Linked DNA regions of Homo sapiens: region 1 is linked to region 2. The links come from fine-mapping of genetic effects on plasma protein levels. A gene starts in region 2. The other region holds a variant in brackets. All regions are shown on one strand. Distances are from middle to middle.

Evidence for each region. A credible set is the group of variants that fine-mapping cannot tell apart. PIP is the chance, under the fine-mapping model, that this variant and not a neighbour inherited with it causes the effect. Protein levels are from antibody-based Olink assays in UK Biobank. Linkage for the fine-mapping came from a reference panel and not from the study's own genotypes, which makes the PIPs less certain.
Region 1: its variant is the best candidate, but not a certain one, in a credible set for the plasma level of the UXS1 protein (UK Biobank, PIP 0.64).

Annotation. Positions count from the first base shown.
Region 1 is chr2:106,226,140-106,235,883 of GRCh38, reverse strand. No RefSeq gene overlaps it. Among named protein-coding and RNA genes, the nearest start is that of UXS1, 37 kb to the right of the region's middle. The variant G/A (reference allele first, on the strand shown) is at 5,015.
Region 2 is chr2:106,188,581-106,198,324 of GRCh38, reverse strand. It overlaps UXS1 (UDP-glucuronate decarboxylase 1), which reads left to right and starts at 4,024. Exons shown (of 15, transcript NM_001253875.2): 1 at 4,024-4,177. The coding sequence starts at 4,084. RefSeq lists a silencer at 3,942-4,551 and an enhancer at 4,882-4,931.

The sequences.
Region 1 (9,744 bases), 38 kb before region 2:
AAACATGTGTGTTTGAACAATATGAAATCAGTGCACCTTGAAAAAGAACAGAATAACAGCTATTTTCAGGGAAGAAGGGAAGACAACCATAAGGTCTGAGTGCCTGTGGGGTCAAGCAAAATAGAGCCATATTTTTCTTCTTGCAGAGAGCCTATAAACAGATGTCCAAGTAGGGAAGATATCACTAAATTCTTTTCCTAGCAAGGAATATTAATAATTAATACCCTGGGGAAGGAATATATTCCTGGGGGGAGGTCTATAAACGGCTGCTCTGGGAGTGTCTGTCTTATGTGGTTGAGATAAGGACTGAAATACACTCTGGTCTCCTGCAGTACCCTCAGGCTTACTAGGGTGGGGAAAAACCCTGCCCTAGTAAATTTGAGGTCAGACTGGCTCTCTGCTCTCGAATCCTGTTTTCTGTTGTTTAAGATGGTTATCAAGACAATATGTGCACCGCTGAACATAGACCCTTATCGGTAATTCTGCTTTTGCCCTTTGCCTTGTGATCTTTTTTTTTTTGCCCTTTGCCTTGTGATCTTTGTTGGACTGTTATCAGGAGTTTCTGATTTTGCCCTTGTCCTGTTTCCTCAGAAGGATGTGATCTTTGTTCTCCTTTTTGCCCTTTGAAGCATGTGATCTTGCGACTTGCTCCCTGTTCTTGCACCCCCTCCCCTTTTGAAACCCTTAATAAAAACCCTCTGGTTTTGCGGCTCAGGAGGGTATCATGGTCCTACCAATATGTAATGTCACCCCCAGAGGCCCAGCTGTAAAATTCCTCTCTTTGTATTCTTTCTCTTTATTTCTTAGCCAGCCAACACTTATGGAAAATAGAAAGAACCTACATTGAAATATTGGGGGTGGGTTCCCCTGATACCCGAGTAGCTGGGACTACAGCTACCCACCACCATGCCTGGCTAATTTTTTGTATTTTTAGTAGAGACAGGGTTTCACCGTGTTAGCCAGGATGATCTCGATCTCCTGACCTCGTGATCCACCCGCCTTTGCCTGCCAAAGTGCTGGGATTACAGGCATGAGCCACTGCACCCGGCCTTCTCTTGCTGTTTTTAGGATTCTTTATCTTTGACCTTTGGGAGTTTGATTATTAAATGTCTTGAGGTAGTCTTCTTTGGGTTACATCAGCTTGGTGTTCTATAACCTTATTGTACTTGAATATTGAGATATTTCTCTAGGTTTGGGAAGTTCTCTGATATTATCCTTTTGAATAAACTAACCTTATCTTTATCTCTGCCTCCTCTTTAAGGCCAACAACTCTTAGATTTGTCCTTTTGAGGCTCTTTTCTAGATCTTATAGATGTGCTTCATTGTGTTTTTTTACTTTTTTCTTGTGTCTCCTCTGACTGTGTATTTTCAAATAGCCTGTCTTCCTGTCTTCAAGCTCACTAATTCTATCTTCTGATTCATCAATTCTGCTTTTAAGAAACTCTGATGCATCCTTTAGAATGCCAATTATATTTTTCTACTCTAGAGTTTATGCTTATTTTAAATTATTTGAATCTCTTTGTTAAATTTATATCATAGAATTCTGAATTCTTTCTCTTTGTTATCTTGAATTTGTTTTAGTTTTCTCAAAATGGCTGTTTTGAATTCTCTATCTCAAAGGTCATATATCTCTATTTCTCCAGATTGGTCCCTGGTGCCTTATGTAGTTCATTTAGTAGGGTCATGTTTCTGGATGGTGTTGAGGCTTGTAGATGTTCTTTGCTGTCTGGGCATTGAAGAGTTGGGTATTTATTGTAGTCTTCACAGTCTGGGCTTGTTTGTGCCTATCCTTCTTGGGAAGGCTTTCTAGCTATTTGAAGGGCCTTGGGCCTCCAGCCCTATGATGCTGTTGTTTTTGTAGACTAGTAGAATAGAAGTATTGCGTTGGTGGTCTTGGATGAGATCCAGAATTATCTGGATTATCAGGCAGAGACTCATTCTTTTTCCTTTTTTTTGTCCCAAACATGCAGAGTCTCTCTGTGCTGAGCCACCTAGAACTGAAGGTGTGGTGATGCAAGCACTCCTGTGATCACCACTACTGAGACTGCACCGGGTCAGACATGAAGCCATTGCAGCACTGGACCTTGCCTAAGACCCTTCCCTTCAGGGTGGCAAGTTCCCCCAAACCCTGGGCATGTCCAGAGATGCTATCTGGGAGCCAGGGATTGGAGTAAAAAATCTTAGCAATTTACCTGATGTTCTATTCTACTGAGGTTAAGCTGGCATTCAAGCCACAATACAAAGTCCTTCCCACTTTAGTCTCCTCATTTCATAGGCAGAGAAGCCCCTCCCTGTAGCCACCACCACCACTGGTTAAGCAAATCATCAATGTTTGCTTAAAGCCCAAGGCTCTTCCATCAGCACACGATGCATGCTGCCAGACCTGGGACTCACCCATCAGGTCGGTGTGCTCCCCTCTGTCCCAGGCCCACTCTAGCAATGCTGTACAAGAACTTAGGCCTGGACTTAGGGATCCCAAGAGCCTGCTTGTTGCTCTACTCCAGTATGGCCAAGCTGGTACCTAGGGTGCAAGACAAACTCCCCTTTACTTTTCCCTCTGTTTTTCTCAAACTGAAGGAGTCTTTCACCATAGCCACCACAGCTTGGAAAATGCTGGCTCTCCCCTGAAGCTAGTGCAACTCAGAGCCCAAGATGCACAGTGTACTTCCCTGTATCACTAATGGTTATTCAGGGCCCAAGGGCTCTTTATTCAGCAAGTGATGAATCCTGCCAGGAATAGGTTCTTCCCTTCAAGGAAGTAGGTTTCCTTTTGGCCCAGGGTGTGTCTACAAATGTTATCTGGGAGCTAGGACCTGGAAAGGGGTCCTCACAATTGTGCCTGGTGCCCTATCCTACTGTGGCTGAGCTGGTATTCAGGATGCAAGACAAAGTCCTCTTTACTTTTTGCTCCCCTTTCTTTAAGCAGAAGGAAAGGGTCACTTTTATTGCTATAAGCTGCACTGCCTAGGGTTGGGGGAGGGATGGTGCAGGTCCTCCCTTAGCCATGTCAGCTGGTGTCTCTCTAGGCCACATGCCACCCTAGTTCACTGGCTCTAAGCCCAGCCTAGCACTAGGAGTTGCCTAGGGATTGTAGTCCTTGTGTCCTAGTCTGCCTTTCAAGCCAGCACATGGTGGCAAGGCTTGCTGACAAACGCAAGCTCTAACTGCTGGGATGGATGACTCCTCTCTGGCTATGGCTGGTCCACATGCTCCCTCTGTGCACAGGCACTGGCTGAGCCTGGCAAGGCTTTATTTTCCACCATGACAGGAGGGCACTGAGTTCAATGTAAAGTCCTCCAGTTGCTGTGCTCTCCCTCCCCAATGTGCACAGATTCTCTCTCTCACTCTGCCTCTGCACAGCTGCTGCTAGGGGTGGGGTGGGGTGGTGTCAGCGAGTCGAGAATAACTCTCCTGCCTTCCTCGATGCCTCTTTCCATGATTGCTCACCTGATATTTGGTTCTTGTGATTGTGCTTTTCTGTGTACAGATAGCTGTTAAAATTTTGTGTTCTAAGGCTGGGCACGGTGGCTCATGCCTGTAATCCCAGCACTTTGGGGGGCCTAGGTGGGTGGATCACCTGAGGTCGGGAGTTCAAGGCCAGCCTGACCAACATGGAGAAACCCCATCTCTAATTAAAAATACAAAATTAGCTAGGCGTGGTAGCGCATGCCTGTAATCCCAGCTACTTGGCAGGCTGAGGCAGGAGAATCACTTGAACCCAGGAGGCAGAGGTTGCAGTGAGCTGAGATGGAGCCATTGCACTCCAACCTGGGCAACAAGAGAGAAACTCAGTCTCAAAAAAAAAAAAAAAAAAAAAAATTTGTGTTCCAGCAGGGAGGACACACAGGAAAAGATGCTTAACATCATCAGTCATTAGGGAAATGCAACTCTAATGCTCTGTGAGATGCCACTTCACCTGCACGAAGATAGATATAATTTAAAAAATAAAGAAAATTTGTGTTTTGGAAAGGATGTGGAGAAATTGGAACTGTCATCTATTGCTGGTGGGAATGTAAAATGGTGAAGCTGCTGTGAAAATATTTGTTGGTTTATCAAATAGATAGATATAGAACTACCATATTCCACTCTAGGTAGATATCCAAAAGAACTAAAAACAGGTCTGAGAGTAGATATCTGTGCACTGGCTGGGTGTGGTGGCTCACACCTGTAATCCCAGCACTTTGGGAGGCCAAGGCAGGCATATCGCTTGAGGCCAGGAATTTGGGACCAGCCTGGCCAACATGGCAAAACACCTTCTCTACTAAAATATAAAAATTAGCTGGGCATGGTGGTGCAGTAGCTGTAGTCCCAGCTACTCAGGAGGCTGAAGCAGGAGAGTCACTTGGACTGGGGAGGTGGGGGTTGCAGTAAGCCAAGATTGCACTACTGCACTCCAGCCTGCGTGACAGAGGTAGACTCTGTCTCAAAAAAAACAAAAAAAAAAAGGAAAAAAAAGGTATCTGTACACTAATGTTGATAGAAACATTGTTTACAATAGCCAGAAGTTGGAAACAATCAAAGTATCCATCGACAGATGAATGTTTGAGCAAAATGTGGTATATACATGCAGTTACACTATTCAGCCATAAAGAGGAATTGAAGTTTGACATATGCTATATACTGAATGAACTTTTGAAAACATTATGCTTTGTAAAATAAACCAGACACAGGACAAATCTTGTATGATTCTTCTTAGATGAGGTATTTTAAGTGGGCAAATTTAGACACAGAGAGTAAACTAGATGTTAGGGGCTGGGAAGAGGGAAGAGGAGGGGATTATTAGCTAATGGGCACAAAGTTTAGGGACTATGAAAAAGTTTCAAGTATAGACAATGGCGATAGTTATACCATATTGTGATTGTGTTTAATGCTATTCAATTACAAATGGTTAAAATAAACAATTGCCTGGGTGTGGTGGCTCATGCCTGTAATGCCAGCACTTTGGGAGGCCAAGGCAGGCCCATCATTTGAGGTCAGGAGTTTGACATCAGCCTGGCCAACATGGTGAAACCCC[G/A]TCTCTACTAAAAATACAAAAATTAACTGGCGTGGTGGTGGATGCCTGTAATCCCAACTACTCGGGAGGCGGAGGCAGGAGACTCTCTAGAACCTGGGAAGCAGAGGTTGCAGTGAACAGAGATTGTGCCATTGCACTCCAGCCTGGGTGACAGAGTGAGACTCCATCTCAAAAAATAAAAAAAAAATAAAAAAATAAAAAGATAATAGGTTATATATATTTTACCACAGTAAAAATAGAAAAATAAAATATAAAAATTATGATATTAATGAAACAATTAAAAATTTGATCCTGGTGAAAATAGTTTATAATATTAAAGAATTATTATTGATATTTTTAGTTGTCATGGTTATTGAGAATCCTTATTTAAAGATACAAAAGTATTTACAAATGAAATGATATATATGAGATTAGCTTCAAAATAATAGGAGAGGGAAGAAAGTGGGTGGGAATAGTCAGAGGAAATGATTGGTCACAGTTCATAATTGTTAAAGCTGGGTGACGGGTACATGTGTGCTCCTCATGCTTTTCGGTCAACTTTACATTTGTAAATTTTCCTAATAAAATAAGGTCACATGCTTTATTATTTAAAAAGTAAAAGCAAAAATATACCATGCTAATACAAATAAAAAGAAAGCTGGAGCAGATACATTAATTTTGGACAAAAAGATTTCAGAAAAAGAAAAACTATTTAAAGAGGGACCTTAGATAATGATAAAGTGATCACTTCACTTAGAAGACACAACAGTCTTTAATGTGTATTTGAGTAACAACAAAGCATCAAAATATAACTGCAAGGGGAAGTAGATGAATCCGTTATAACAGGTGGAGGCTTCCCCATCCCTCTCAGAAATGGACAGATCCAGCAGGCATAAAATCAGTAAGGATATAGTTCAACTGAGCAGCACCATCAATTAAATGAATCTAATTGACATCTAGAGACTTCTTCATCCAAGAGCAGGTTACATATTCTCCTCCAGCTCACATGAAATATTCCCCAAGGTAGACCATATTCTGGGCCATAAAACACACTTCCACAAATATAAAAGAATAGAATAAAATAGAAATCATACAATGTATGAAACATTTTCATTAAAGATATTAATAAAATTGATAAATCTTTAGTCAGGCTAATCAAGAAAAAAGAATAAAGACACAAATGACTAATATCAGAATAAAAGAGGAGTGATCACTACTGACCTCATGAATGTTTAAATGACTTTTAAAGAATAATAAAGGAATATTTTGAACAACTCTATGCCTATAAATTGGATAACCTAGGTAAAATAGACTAATTTCTTGAAAGAATCATCCAAGGATGATCTGAAAAGTCTACATTTATTTTAAAAATTGAATCACTAATTAATAATCTTCTAGAACAGAAAGTACCAGGTGCAGCTGGTGTCACTGTTACATTTTATCAAACATTTAAGTAAAAAATTGTACCAGTTCTCTATAATCTCTTCCAGAAAATAGAAGCAGAAGAAACACCTCTTAACTCATTCTATGAGGCCAACATTACCCTAATGCCAAAAACAGATAAACACATTACATAAAAAGAAAACTACAAACTAATGTCTTTCATGAACACAGAAGAAAAAATCCTCAACAAAATGGTAGTAACAAACCTAACAAAGTTTGAAAAAAGATATATACACCATGACCAAGTGGGACTTATTCCAGATATACAAGCCTGTGTTAACATTTGGAAATCAGTTAATCTAACTAATTACATCAACAGAATAACAATGAAAGTCATGATTATATCAATAGATGCAGAAAAGATATTTGACAAAATCCAATACCCATTTATGATAGCTGTCAGCAAATCAGGAATGGGGGGAACATGGTCAACTTGGTAAAAAGCAACTATAAAAACCCTAAAGATGGCCTGGCGCAATGGCCCACACCTGTAATTCCAGCACTTCGGGAGGCCAAGGCAGGCAGATCACTTGAGATCAGGAGTTCGAGACCAGCCTGGCCAACATGGCAAAACCCCGTGTCTACTAAAACTACAAATAATTAGCTGGGAGTGGTGGTAGGCGCCTGTAATCCCAGCTACTTGGGAGGCTGAGGCTGGAGAATCACTTGAACCCAGGAGGCAGAGGTTGCAGTGAGCTGAGATTGTGTCACTGCACTCCAGCCTGGGCGACAGAGCAAAACTCTGTCTCAAAAAACTAAAAAATAAAAAACCCTAAAGCTATCATCATACTTGATGAGAAACCAGATGCTTTCACCCTAAGATTAGAACAAAGGAAATGTATCCCCTCTCCCCACTCCTATTCAGCACTGTACTGGAAGTTTTAGCTAGAAAAATAAGATAAAAAGAGGAAATAAAGGTGTATTGATTAAGAAGAACAAAAAACCTGTTTCTTCACAGATGACATGATTGTCTATGTAGAAAATCCCAGAGTACTGACAAAAGTACTTCTGGAACTGTTAAGTGATTACAGTAAGGATGCAGATTACAAGGTTATATACAAAAGATATATACAAAAGTCAATTGCTTTCTATATAACACCAATGAACAATTAAAATTTAAAATGTAAAACACAATTCCACAAAAAAGAAGTACTTAAAAATAAATCTTGAAAAAATACAAGATATATATGGGGAAAACTACAAAACTGATAAAAAAAAAAAAGATTTGAATAGAGAAGTATTCCATGTTCATAAATAGGTAGATCCAATATCGTTAGGATGTCAGTTATTCCCAACTTAATCTGTAGATCAAATGCAATCCTAATAAAAATCTCAGCAAGTTGTTTTGTGGATATTAACAAATTGATTCTAAAGTTTATATAAAGAGGCAAAATACCCAGAATAGCCAACACGGTATTAAAGGAGAATGAAGTCAGAGTACTGACACCATCTGATTTCAAGACTTACTCACTTATAAGTGAGAACATAACGCTAGAACAATCAGGACAATGTGGTATTAGCAGAAGATTAGATGAATAGGCCAATCGAATAGAATTGAAAGCCTAAAAACAGATGCCCACAGGTATAGTCAACTGATATTTGCAAAGGAGCAAAGACAATTTAATACAGAAACAAATGATGCTGGAATGATTGGACACCTACATTTAAAAAAATCTAGCCAGGCATGGTGGCTCACACCTGTAATCCCAATGCTTTGGGAGGCGGAGATGGGAGAATCACTTGAACTCAGGAGGTCAAGACCAGCCTGTACAACATAGAGAGACCCCCCTCTCTACAAAAAATTAAAAAATTGGCTGGGTGTGGCCGCAAGTGCCTGTAGTCTCAGCTACTTGGGAAGCTGAAGTGGGAGGATGGCTTGAACCTGGGAGGCCGAGGCTGCAATAAGCCATGATTGCATCACTGCACTACAGCTTGGGTGGCAGAGCAAGACCCCATCTCAAAGAATAATAAAAATCCTCATGCCTGTAATTCCAGCACTTTGGGAGGCCGAGGCAGGTGGATCATGAGGTCAGGAGTTCCAGACCATCCTGGCCAACATGGTGAAACCCTGTCTTTACTAAAACTATAAAAAATTAGCTGGGCATAGTGGTGGACACCTGTAATCCCAGCTACTAGGGAGGCTGAGGCAGGAGAATTGCTCGAATCCAGACGGCGGAGGTTGCAGTGAGCCAAGATTGCACCATTGCACTCCAGCCTGGGTGACAGAGTGGGACTCTGTCTCAAAAAAAAAAAAAAAAAAAAATATATATATATATATATATAGTAATAAAAATCTAGACATAGACCTTAAACCTTTTACAAAAATTAACTCAAAATGAATCATTGACTTCACGTAAAATGAAAAACCATAAAACTTTAAAAATATAACATAGAAGAAAATCTAGGTAATCATGGGTTTGGCTGTGACTTTTTAGATATGAAACCAAAAGCAATATCCGTAAAAGAAAAATCAATAGTGGGACTTCGCTAAAAATAACAATTCGTGTTCTGTGAAAGACATTATTAAGAGAATGAGAAGACAAGCCACAGGCTGAGAGAAAATATTTACAAAGATATATATGATAAAGGACTGTTATCCGAAATATACAAATAACTCTTTTTTCTTTTCTTTTTTTTTGCAACTTTTAGTTTTGATTCAGGGGATATTTGTGCAGGTTTGCTACCTGGGTATATTGTGTGATGCTCAGGTTTGGGGTATGAATGATCCTGTCACTCAGGTGTCAAGCATAGTACCCAATAGTTTTTCAACCCTTGCCACCTCCCATCCTCCCCCCTTTACTAGTCCCCAGTGTCTATTGTTGCCATCTTTATGTCCATGAGTACCCAGTGTTTAGCTCCCACTTACAAGTGAGAACATGTGGCATCTGATTTTCTGTTCCTGGGTTTATTCACTTAGGATGATGGACTGCAGCTGCATCCATGCTGTTGCAGAGCATAGGATTTTGTTCCTTTTTATGGCTGCATAGTATTCCATGGTATATCTGTACCATGTATTCTTTATCAAATCCACCATTGATGGGCACCTAAGTTGATTCTATGTCTTTGCTATTGTGAATAGTGCTGTGATGAACATGTGAGTCCATGTGTCTTTTTGGTAGAACAATTTTTCTTTTGGATATATACCTAATAATGGGATTTCTGGGTTGAATGCTAGTTCTGTTTTAAGTTATTTGAGAAATCTCCAAATTGCTTTCCACAGTGGCTGAGCTAATTTACATTCCCACCAACAGTATATAAGCATTCTCTTTTCTCCAGTCTTGCTGGCATCTGTTGTTTTTTGACTTTGT
Region 2 (9,744 bases):
GTCCAAATCCTATACTACATCCTTTCAAATTCAGCTCACGTAGGTCCTGCTCTGCAAAGCTTTCTCTCTCTCACTGTTCTCATCTGCAAGCAGAAGTATGCTAGTTAAAAGAAAAAAAAAAAAAAAGAATCCCTGGTATGTAGCAATTGCGTTATTTCCATGGTGCAAATAATCCCAGAGGAACAGTTGCTAACTGTCAGCTCTTGTGAGCCTGTCAGCTGGTCCCGGCATGGCAAACCACAGTCCATGACCTGGAAGCATACCTTCCTGTTGTGAAATTCCTTAGCCATTCATGCGACCCTGTCCCACAGTGACCACTCACCACATTTTGCTATGAGTGATAGTCATTTCTGTGCAAGTCTGCACTCAACTCCAGAAAAGCATCCTCACACAGGGAAAATCATGGCTTAAAATTCCAGCCCTACACTCCCAGCTCTGTGACTGGTAACCCTGTTACTTACCAAGCCAAGTAACTGGTAACCCTGCCACCTACCAAGTGTTGGGACACTTATCAAATGTTCAGAGCCTCAGTTTCCTCATCTATTAATGACAGCAGCAATGTAAATCAGTACAGCCCTTAAGGAAGACCGTATAGAAGTTCCCAAAAAAATTAAACACACAACTACCTTATGAGCCAAAAATTCCACTTCTGGGTAATGTACCCAAAAGAACTGAAAGTGGGGTCTTAAAGAGATATTTGTACACCTGTGTTCACAGCAGCATTATTCACAATACCCAAAAGGTGGAAGCAAACTAGTTTTAGCTATTCCACCATCTATACATATATTAAAACCTCATATGATACATCATAAATATATACAATTTTTGTTGATTTAAAAATTAATTTAAAATTTTTTTTTTTTTTTTTTTTTTTAAAGAGCAGCAACAATGGCAACCCTGCCCCACAGGGCTGTTGCAAGAATTAAATGAGTGTGTTAGTAGTTTTCACACTGCTATAAAGAACTGCTGGAGACTAGCTAATTTATAAAGGAAAGAGGTTTAATGGACTCACAGTTCCGCATGGCTGGGGAGGCCTCAGGAAACTTACAATCATGGCAGAGGGTGAAGGGGAAGCAAGGACCTTCCTCATATGGCGGCAGGGGAGAGGAGAGAAATGCCGTGAAGGAGAAACTTCCAAACACTTTTAAAACCGGCCGGGTGTGGTGGCTCACACCTGTAATCCCAGCACATTGGGAGGCCAAGGCGGGTGGATTACCTGAGGTCAGGAGTTCAAGACCAGCCTGACCAACATGGTGAAACCCCATCTCTACTAAAAATACAAAAATTAGCCAGGCGTGGTGGCGGGCGCCTGTAATCCCAGCTACTTGGGAGGCTGAGGCAGGATGATCACTTGAACCCGGGAGGCAGAGGTTGCAGTAAGCTGAGATTGTGCCATTGCACTCCAGCCTGGGCAACAGAGTGAGACCCCGTCTCAAAAAAAAAAATGCCATTGGCTGTCATGAGAACTCCCTTACCATCATGAGAACAGCATAGGGAAAACCACCTCCATGATCCAATCACCTCTCATCAGGTCCTTCCCTTGACATGTGGGGATTACAATTTGGGTGGGGACATAGAGCCAAACCATATCAATGAGGTAACAATGAAAGTGCATTGCATAACAGTCCCTGGCACATTGTAGAGGTTTATAAATGTTAATTTTCTCCACTCCTTAGGCTTTAAACACTTTAGAAGTCATATTACAATTCATTTTTTAATTACCCTGAGTGTCAAAAACACTACCTTTGTAACTTGTTCAAAAATATGTAATCGCTCAAAAATATTGTTGTTAACCTATCCACTGGAAATATGAGGGGGTTGACAGTAAGGGGAGGGAGCAGGGAGGGATGAGCCCAGAACCTGCGGGGGAAGTGGGGATGGGCTGGGAAGAAACAAGGGGGTCTGGGAAGAAACAAGAGAGGCAAGGAGCACAGGGAAATGGTGCTGCCTACGCCCAAGATCCCCGGAGGAGCTTGGAGGGTCTCTTTGGCATCTCCCTCCCTCAGGCCTTCTTACCTCCACTGGGTGCACACTTACTATTGCTTACTTTTTAATTCTGGCTGCGGCTGAGCAAGACACCAGTGTCCTGGGACACCAACCGCCTTCTGGGTGGCAATAATGACAGCAGCAGCTATTTCAACTGCAGCTGCTAACGGTATTTCCATATACTTAATCCCACAGGGCAGAAGTTGGCAGTAGTGTCCAGCAGCAGAAAAAAATGCTAACTGGGAATGCTGGGCTTAAGGAGTTTAGTACAGAAATGGCAAATACCCCACAATTTCTGACCTTTGTCGTCTAATAGGATACCTATCAACTAAACCCTACCTAAAACCTAAAATGCTTGAAATCCGCCTAGAAGCTTCAGTCTGATTTTGCCCATAGGTCAAATGTTAATGAACTATTATTTTCTTCCATTTCTGCTCCTCATCTTTAATCTAAAAACCACGGAGTCATGGAATGGGAAAGGCCTAGAGCTCCACTTGCTCTAGTTCTCTTTTCAAAAACCATAGCCAGAAAGCCACGAGGAAATGCAGACTTACAAACAAAATCGATTTGTTCCAAACTGGTGTGCTCTGGGGGCCTGGCCCCTCTGGGAACCCAGGACTCAGGCTCCCATGCCAGGTGTTTTGTCACTTGGCAGCCTCCTTGGACACGTCAGAGTCAGGGAGCTGGGCTTCTCGAAAGAAGTCCACTCCATCTATGGGCAGCATGCATAGCAGGGGCAATCCGCCTTAGCAAACCGCTCAGTGTTTCCTCCTAGTCAGGGATTCTCAACAGGTTTAGGGGAGGGGTAGGATGGAGGTAGGTTTTATCAGAATCACATCATTTGCACTATAGTTTGAAAGATGTAACATAAAGCTGCTGCTTTAGTACCAGCTGCCATATTTCCTTTTCTTGGAGGTTTCTAATAAATCTAAAGGAGGGTGATCTATTAAGTTTTGCAAAATGGCCTGAGGTTCCAAGAGGTAGGAGAGCCGCTGCTGACTTCAACTTCTCCGTATAGCTGAAGATGACCTCTTGAAGCCTGCAGATCCCAAATCCGGGATCTCTCTTAATGTGGCATCACACACATCTGTGTGTACCTGTCTTTTTTTCCTCCATGGGACCAGCTCTCTCCAGATCCAATGACAAGCTTCCGATTATCTGTGGATCTTCTGATACATCTCCTTGCTTGTAATCATCATTCAGTAAATGCTTTTTAAACACAGGTACCTCCTATGCAATCAGTACAGCACTCATAAAACAGATATACTCAACAAAAAGATTGAATGAAACACACACGACAACATGGTCAGGGTTTTTCTCTAGGCAGAGACAGCGCAATTTCATCTTTTCTTTTCCAAGTCTATCCTAAATTAATATACTTAGCACTGCTTTTTAAAATAATAATAAAAGACTATTATTAAAACAAAGGCACCCCAGTTGATCATAGCCAAGGAAAAAAAACGCAGCCAGTTTTTACTTCGGCAAGGTTTAGGGGATTTATCATTTTCGCTGCCGATATTCTAACTAAAAAAAGCCAACTAAACAGCCCAGAGAACGAGGCAACTTTCTGAGGCAGGCATTCAACTTCTAAGGCTCGGCCAAGTTTAGCAAATAAGTTTCGTTTCACTGCAACACCGGAATGCCCACCGCGTGCCCCCCTCCGGGCGGGGCTCGGAAACTGGCCACTGCAGTCGTGCCCTTGGGTTGGGGACGCACCTCAGCGAAACGAATCCAGCCGCACCTCCCGGCTGGCACCCGCGCGCTTTAACTCAGGGAAAACAGACCGGAACGCGCATGCGCCGCGGCGCGCCGCACCGCCCACCAGCCCTCCAGGTCACATTCTTCGAAAACCAAGGCAAGAAAGGCGGCAACTGCGCCTGCGGGTAGAGAAGCCGGAGGGGCGGGGGCGGAGCCGGAGGAAGGGGGTGGAGGCGCGCCTGCGCGGTGATCCCGCCAGCAGGAAGCAGGCGCGCGGGGGCGGGGGCGCGCGGCGGCAGGAGGCGGGGCTCTCGGGGCCGCTGCCGCCGCCGCCGCCGCGCATTGTGCAGCAGGCGGGCCCCCGCGCGGTAGGGCCCTGGACCCGCGCGGCTCCCGGGGATGGTGAGCAAGGCGCTGCTGCGCCTCGTGTCTGCCGTCAACCGCAGGAGGATGAAGCTGCTGCTGGGCATCGCCTTGCTGGCCTACGTCGCCTGTGAGTGCGCGCCCGCTGCCAGCTGGGGAGCCCCATTCATTCCCCGGCGCCGCGGTGGGCCGGGCGGCGGTGGTTCGGGGCCCCGAGGCGGCCCTGCAGCCCCGCGTTGCTCCCCGCCCCGGGCGGGGCCGGCGCTTTCTGCTCCCACCCCTTTCCACTCTTGCAGCAAAGCGGGCCAACTTGGGCGCACACCCCCTACCGCTTAGGCCCGGGCGCGGACCCCGGGCGGAGGGGCCCCTAGCAGTCCTCGGGCGGCCCCAGGTCTCTGCCTCCTGCCCGGGCGCGGGGGACTCGGCGGCGGCGCTGTCGTCCATGTCGCGCTGGGAGCCGGCGAGGGTCCCGGTCGGGGACTCCGGAGCGTGCCGCGTGGGGATACCCTTGGGGACAGCCGAGGTCGCGCCGCGGTGTCGGTTAAGTCGGATAAAAATACTGTGGCCATTGGCAGAGCCCCCGCTCCGACTGTTTGCTCCTCAGGAAAATTACTCAGCGTTTAACTCTTGGGGAGCCAAGTGTGGGCGGCTCCCCGGCCCGCGGCCGTGCCCAGGTGTCGGGGCGCACCGGCATCCCCATTCTAGGTTTTCCCCCGGGGCTCGGCGGCCGGGCGAAGCAGGCAGGCAGCTGGGTGGCCGGGCAGGGCGTGCCTGCAGCTTCTCTGTGCGCGGGTCCAGTTTCTGTCATCGCTCACAGCATGCTGCCTGGAGACAGGGCAGGAGGGGCACTTCGCAGGCAGGTGGTCGGCCCTCTGCTTGTTAGGGAAGTCAGAAACCGTCCTTTTAAAGATCTATTCGTTGGGAATGTTTTAATTGATGCTATTAATACGTTACCAAGTAGCAAAATTGGACTAGAAATAGCTCCCAGTGTGAGCTGCGTTTGAATGCTAGCCACCCAGACACACACTGAAATGAAATCACCTGCTAACCTGTTGGCGTTACCAAGATCTGATTCCAGAGGTGAGTGGGTACTTCACTTGTCTGAAGTGACTTCAGTTGAGCTCTAGGAAGGCAAGTATGAGTAGATCCAGCCTGTGTGCTACAGCCCAGCTGTTCAGGAGGTGGAGCTGGAAAACCCCAGCAGGACTCCGGGTTGCTAGGGGAGGTTTCAGGCGTCGGATGGGTGTTAGATGTGTGTAGTTTTGCAAGGGAGGAAGAACTAGTCTAAAGTGTGTGTGTGGTCAATCTTGAGTAAGAAAGCTGAGACCCAAGAGGAAAGACCATTTAAAGTTGAATAACTATTATTATGGCAGTAATACTACCTACATTTGTTGAGTGCTTAACTGTGTGAGTCATGATTCTTAGTGCCATTGTCTCAATCATTGAGCAACCCTGGGAAATCGGTACTATAATGATTCCTATTTTAGAGGTGAGGAAGTTAAGGCCAAGAGAGATTAGGAAATTTATGGATGATCACACAGATAGTAAGAGAAGGAGGGCCAAAATTTGAACCCAGAAAGGCCTGGGAGCAGGAGCTAGAACCCAGGTCTTCGAACAGCAGTTTCAATGTTTATTTTGGGGGTATTCTATAGTCGCTGCAAGGGTTTAGAATTAATAAAGTAGGGGATTTATGGAGCCATGGGAAGTTTTTTTTTTTTTTTTGAGACGGAGTCTCGCTCTGTTCAGCCCAGGCTGGAGTGCAGGGGCGCGATCTCGGCTCACTGCACGCTCCACCTCCCGGGTTCACGCCATTCTCCTGCCTCAGCCTCCCAAGTAACTGGGACTACAGGCACCCGCCACCACGCCCGGCTAATTTTTTGTATTTTTAGTAGAGACGGGGTTTCACCATGTTAGCCAGGATGGTCTCGATCTCCTGACCTCGTGATCCGCCTGCCTCGGCCTCCCAAAGTGCTGGGATTACAGGCGTAAGCCACCGCTCCCAGCAGGAAAGTTTTTTAACCAATCATTCATCTGACCAGGAAATCTTACCAAGTCCTTACTGTTGTCCCTGAATTTGGCACTAGGAGACACCATGGGGTGCTAAAACTTAACTGGTCTGTGCTGTGATGGTACAGACCCTATACCACATAGTGTAGCACGTTGATTCTCAGACTTAAGCATGCATCAGAATCAGTAGGGTTTTTTTTAAAAAACACAGACTGCTTGTCTCCCACCTCAAGTTTCTGATTCAGTTGGTCTGGGATGTGGCCTGAGAATCTGCATCACTAATAGGTTGTTCTGTATGCTGTTGCTGTGACCTGACACCACTTTGAGACCCACTGGCCAAGATGGTGAGGTGGGCATGAATTGGAAATGAAGGTTAAATTACAAACTGGTGTGAGGAAAAGGAATGCATGAGAACTATGCCAGGAACTCCTGAGTGAGAGCAATCAGGTACGTTTGTTTTGTTGAGGAATCAAAAGTGAGCTGAGAATGGACGGCTTATGTAGGAGTTAACAGGGAAGTCATAGGAGAGAGCGTGTTCTAGGAGGAGCAGTGTGTGCAGAGGTCCTGCGGCAGCCAAGAGCAGGCAGTATTCTAGGAATGCAAAGAAGGATGGTATTGTTGGAGTGTGAAAACAAAATTACAGCCATGAGGCTGCCCAGGCAGACAGGGGCCAGAGCAGGCAAGCAGGCAGGCAGGCCTGGGGTGCAGCCCACGACATGGTTGATTTTAGCTATGAGGGGTTTAACACAGGGTGGAGGCAGTGTTAATAAGGAGCAGGTATGCTAAGTCTGAGCCACTCTGCAGGGAAAAATGTTACAGGGCTTGTGATTGATAACACCGAAGGACACTGAAAATGTAGTCCCTCAACCGTGATGTCTGTGTTTTCTAATCTCTGCTTTTCCTAATTAGTAATCTTGCCCTCCCTGTTACAAGTAAAATCTCACCACTGTTTGAAAAAACTGTCCATACTTCCCAATTATATACACCCTCACTGTTAGCCAGCCTCCGTTGCAGAAATGCCCTCCCTGTTTCGGGAACAGAACTCAAGTTCTGTTAGCCTTTCTCCTTCTCCTCCTTACATCTTTCCCAAAGTCTTTGTTACCTACTCTGGCCCTGAGTCTCCTCCTTGATACCACATAACTCTTCTTCATGTCTTAGGGTTGACCACCTGCTAACTTGCATTGTACTTGAGTTCTTTCCCATTCATATGTTGGCTTTTTTTTCTCAATGAAATCCCGATTCTGAGGACAGGGATTGTGTCTTATGTGTTTCAGCCCTTGAAACATTTATAGCAGTGCTAATGGCTCATTGAAAGAACTCAGTTTCTGCCCTTTGTGCTGAATCAAAAATCAGGCCAACCTACTAGGTAGCTCCTGGGCAGACTGCTTGAATTACCTTTAACGTATTTTTTTTTAACATGCATATAGTGTAAAAAGTTAAATAGCTTCTGCAGGGCCAAACAGTATCCCCTGCCACCATTTCCCTCTCCCCAGAAGCAGGCACTTCATTTCTTTTTTTTTTTTTTTTGATACAGAGTTTCGCTTTTGTTGCCCAGGCTGGAGTGCAGTGGCGTGATTTCGGCTCACTGCAACCTTGGCCTCTTGGGTTCAAGCGATTCTCCTGCCTCAGCCTCCTGAGTAGCTGGGATTACAGGCATGCGCCACCACGCCCGGCTAATTTTGTATTTTTAGTAGAGACGGTTTCTCCATGTTGGTCAGGCTGGTCTCAAACTCCTGACCTCAGGTGATCTGCCTACCTCAGCCTCCCAAAGTGCTAGGATTGCAGGCGTGAGCCACCGCACCCAACCCCTAGGCATTTCACTTCTTTTAGTTGATTATTTTGGTATTTATCATTGTGCCATTGAATCACCTGGCTTCCTGATTTTTCAGTTGTAGATATTACCTAGTGACTTTGTTCTTTGGGAGATGATTTTTTTCTTCTCTTTGCCCCTGTACATGCTCTCCACCCTCCTATATAGATGTGGTATAATCTCACGGAGCTCATCATGCAGTGTTTACAAGCATGACTATGTAAATGCTGTTCCTAGTGAGTCATGTTGTAGGTTACTTTTTGTTTTCTCCAGCGAATAATTGGCTGGTGTTCTAATTTGCTTGCTTTCTATGTAGTATGACAGATCCAACTCCAAACTCTTTGCCAGTTGTCTGTCGCGTCTTCCCCCATGATGTTCATGAGCATCAGGATGCCCCTTGGTCAGCACCCCTTCCTGAAGAAGGGCCCCGGGGCCTTCTACTGCAACTTGTGGATACATCTGAGGGTCAGCTGCCAGCCTCACCACCTGCACCCACATCAGCCTGGACCTACCCACTGCAGGACTTCTGTTTCCTGACTTCCTCTTCCTGACTCCCTCTTGTTTCACTCCCTGGTTTGGATGTGATGGGAAGTGAATTCTGAGACTTTACCCATAAGTATATTTTCTGCCTTCATGTCTGATAGATTGATAGTGTAGAATTATAGAAAAAAAGTTCCTTTAGAATTTTTGAAGCATTGGTCCAATCCTTTTTGGCCTCCAGTATTGTTGAAGAATTTCAAGCCAGTCCTTCTCTTTCTGAAGATTGTAGCATCTTCCTTTCGGGTCTAGTTGTCAGTGCTCGCCACACATGTCCAGCCCCCTGTCCCCCAGGCTCTTGGTAGGATTGCCCTCCCTTCCTCACTCCCTGAGCTTGATGGCCTCACATGGTTGTTGTGCCAGTGGCCTGCCCAGGAGCTGAGCGGAAGTGCTACTTCCACTTCTGGGCCTGCACTTCGCTGCGAGTGTAAGTTGCTGCCAGAGTTTTCCTTCCCTCTAGTTAGGTTCTGAACTCAGCTTGACAATGATGATACTCAGCTTGCAGAACCCCCTCCCACCCATGCTATGACCCTGTTCGATTGAAATAAACTTGAAGAATAAATCTTGGTTGTTGTAGGCCTCTGAGGGCTTTTGGGCTGCTCATTGCTGTAGTTTAACAATGCCTGCCCTGACTGATACATCCGTGGTGTTCCAAGATCCACAGTGCTAGGCCTTGGTGTATTTTATCCAGCATGTTGGGCATTTTTTGTGCCCTGGCAATCCAGAAACACTTATTCTTCAGTTATGGGAATTTTCTTGAATTATTCTTTGGTGATTTTCTCCCCTCCCATTTTCTATTTCATCTCTTTCTGGGACTACTACTATTCTGATATAGGATTGCTGGACCAATCCTCTTATTTCCTATTTTCTACCATTTTAAGGTTGTTGCACTTTTGGGACGTCTCCTCATTTTTGTATTTAGACTCTTCTAGTGATTTTTTTACATTTTATTTTTGCCATACTTTTTCATGTATAAGAGTTCTTTTTTGTTCTGTGAACTTTTTTAAAAAACTAAAACATGGTCTTCATTTCATGGTATATTCTCTGGATTTTTAAAAAATTTGTTTTCTTTTCTCTTTACTGAAGGATCTCTTTCCTCTAGGCTGCCTTCCCGTTTCTGTGTGAGGCTCTCCTCAGATGGCCTGCCCATGTTTAAGAGTGGGGGACTCTGTAGGGATGGGCACTGCCTTCTGTGAGCTGAACCTTTCCTTGTTGGGGCCTTCTGACCTTAGTGCTGCGGGTTGGTCCTCCCGGGCTATTGTCACAAGACTCTCCCTGGTCCCTGCAGGAAGGGGAGGCTTGGCTGCCTGCATCCTGGAGCCCAGTGAGCGAGGGCTGTAGCC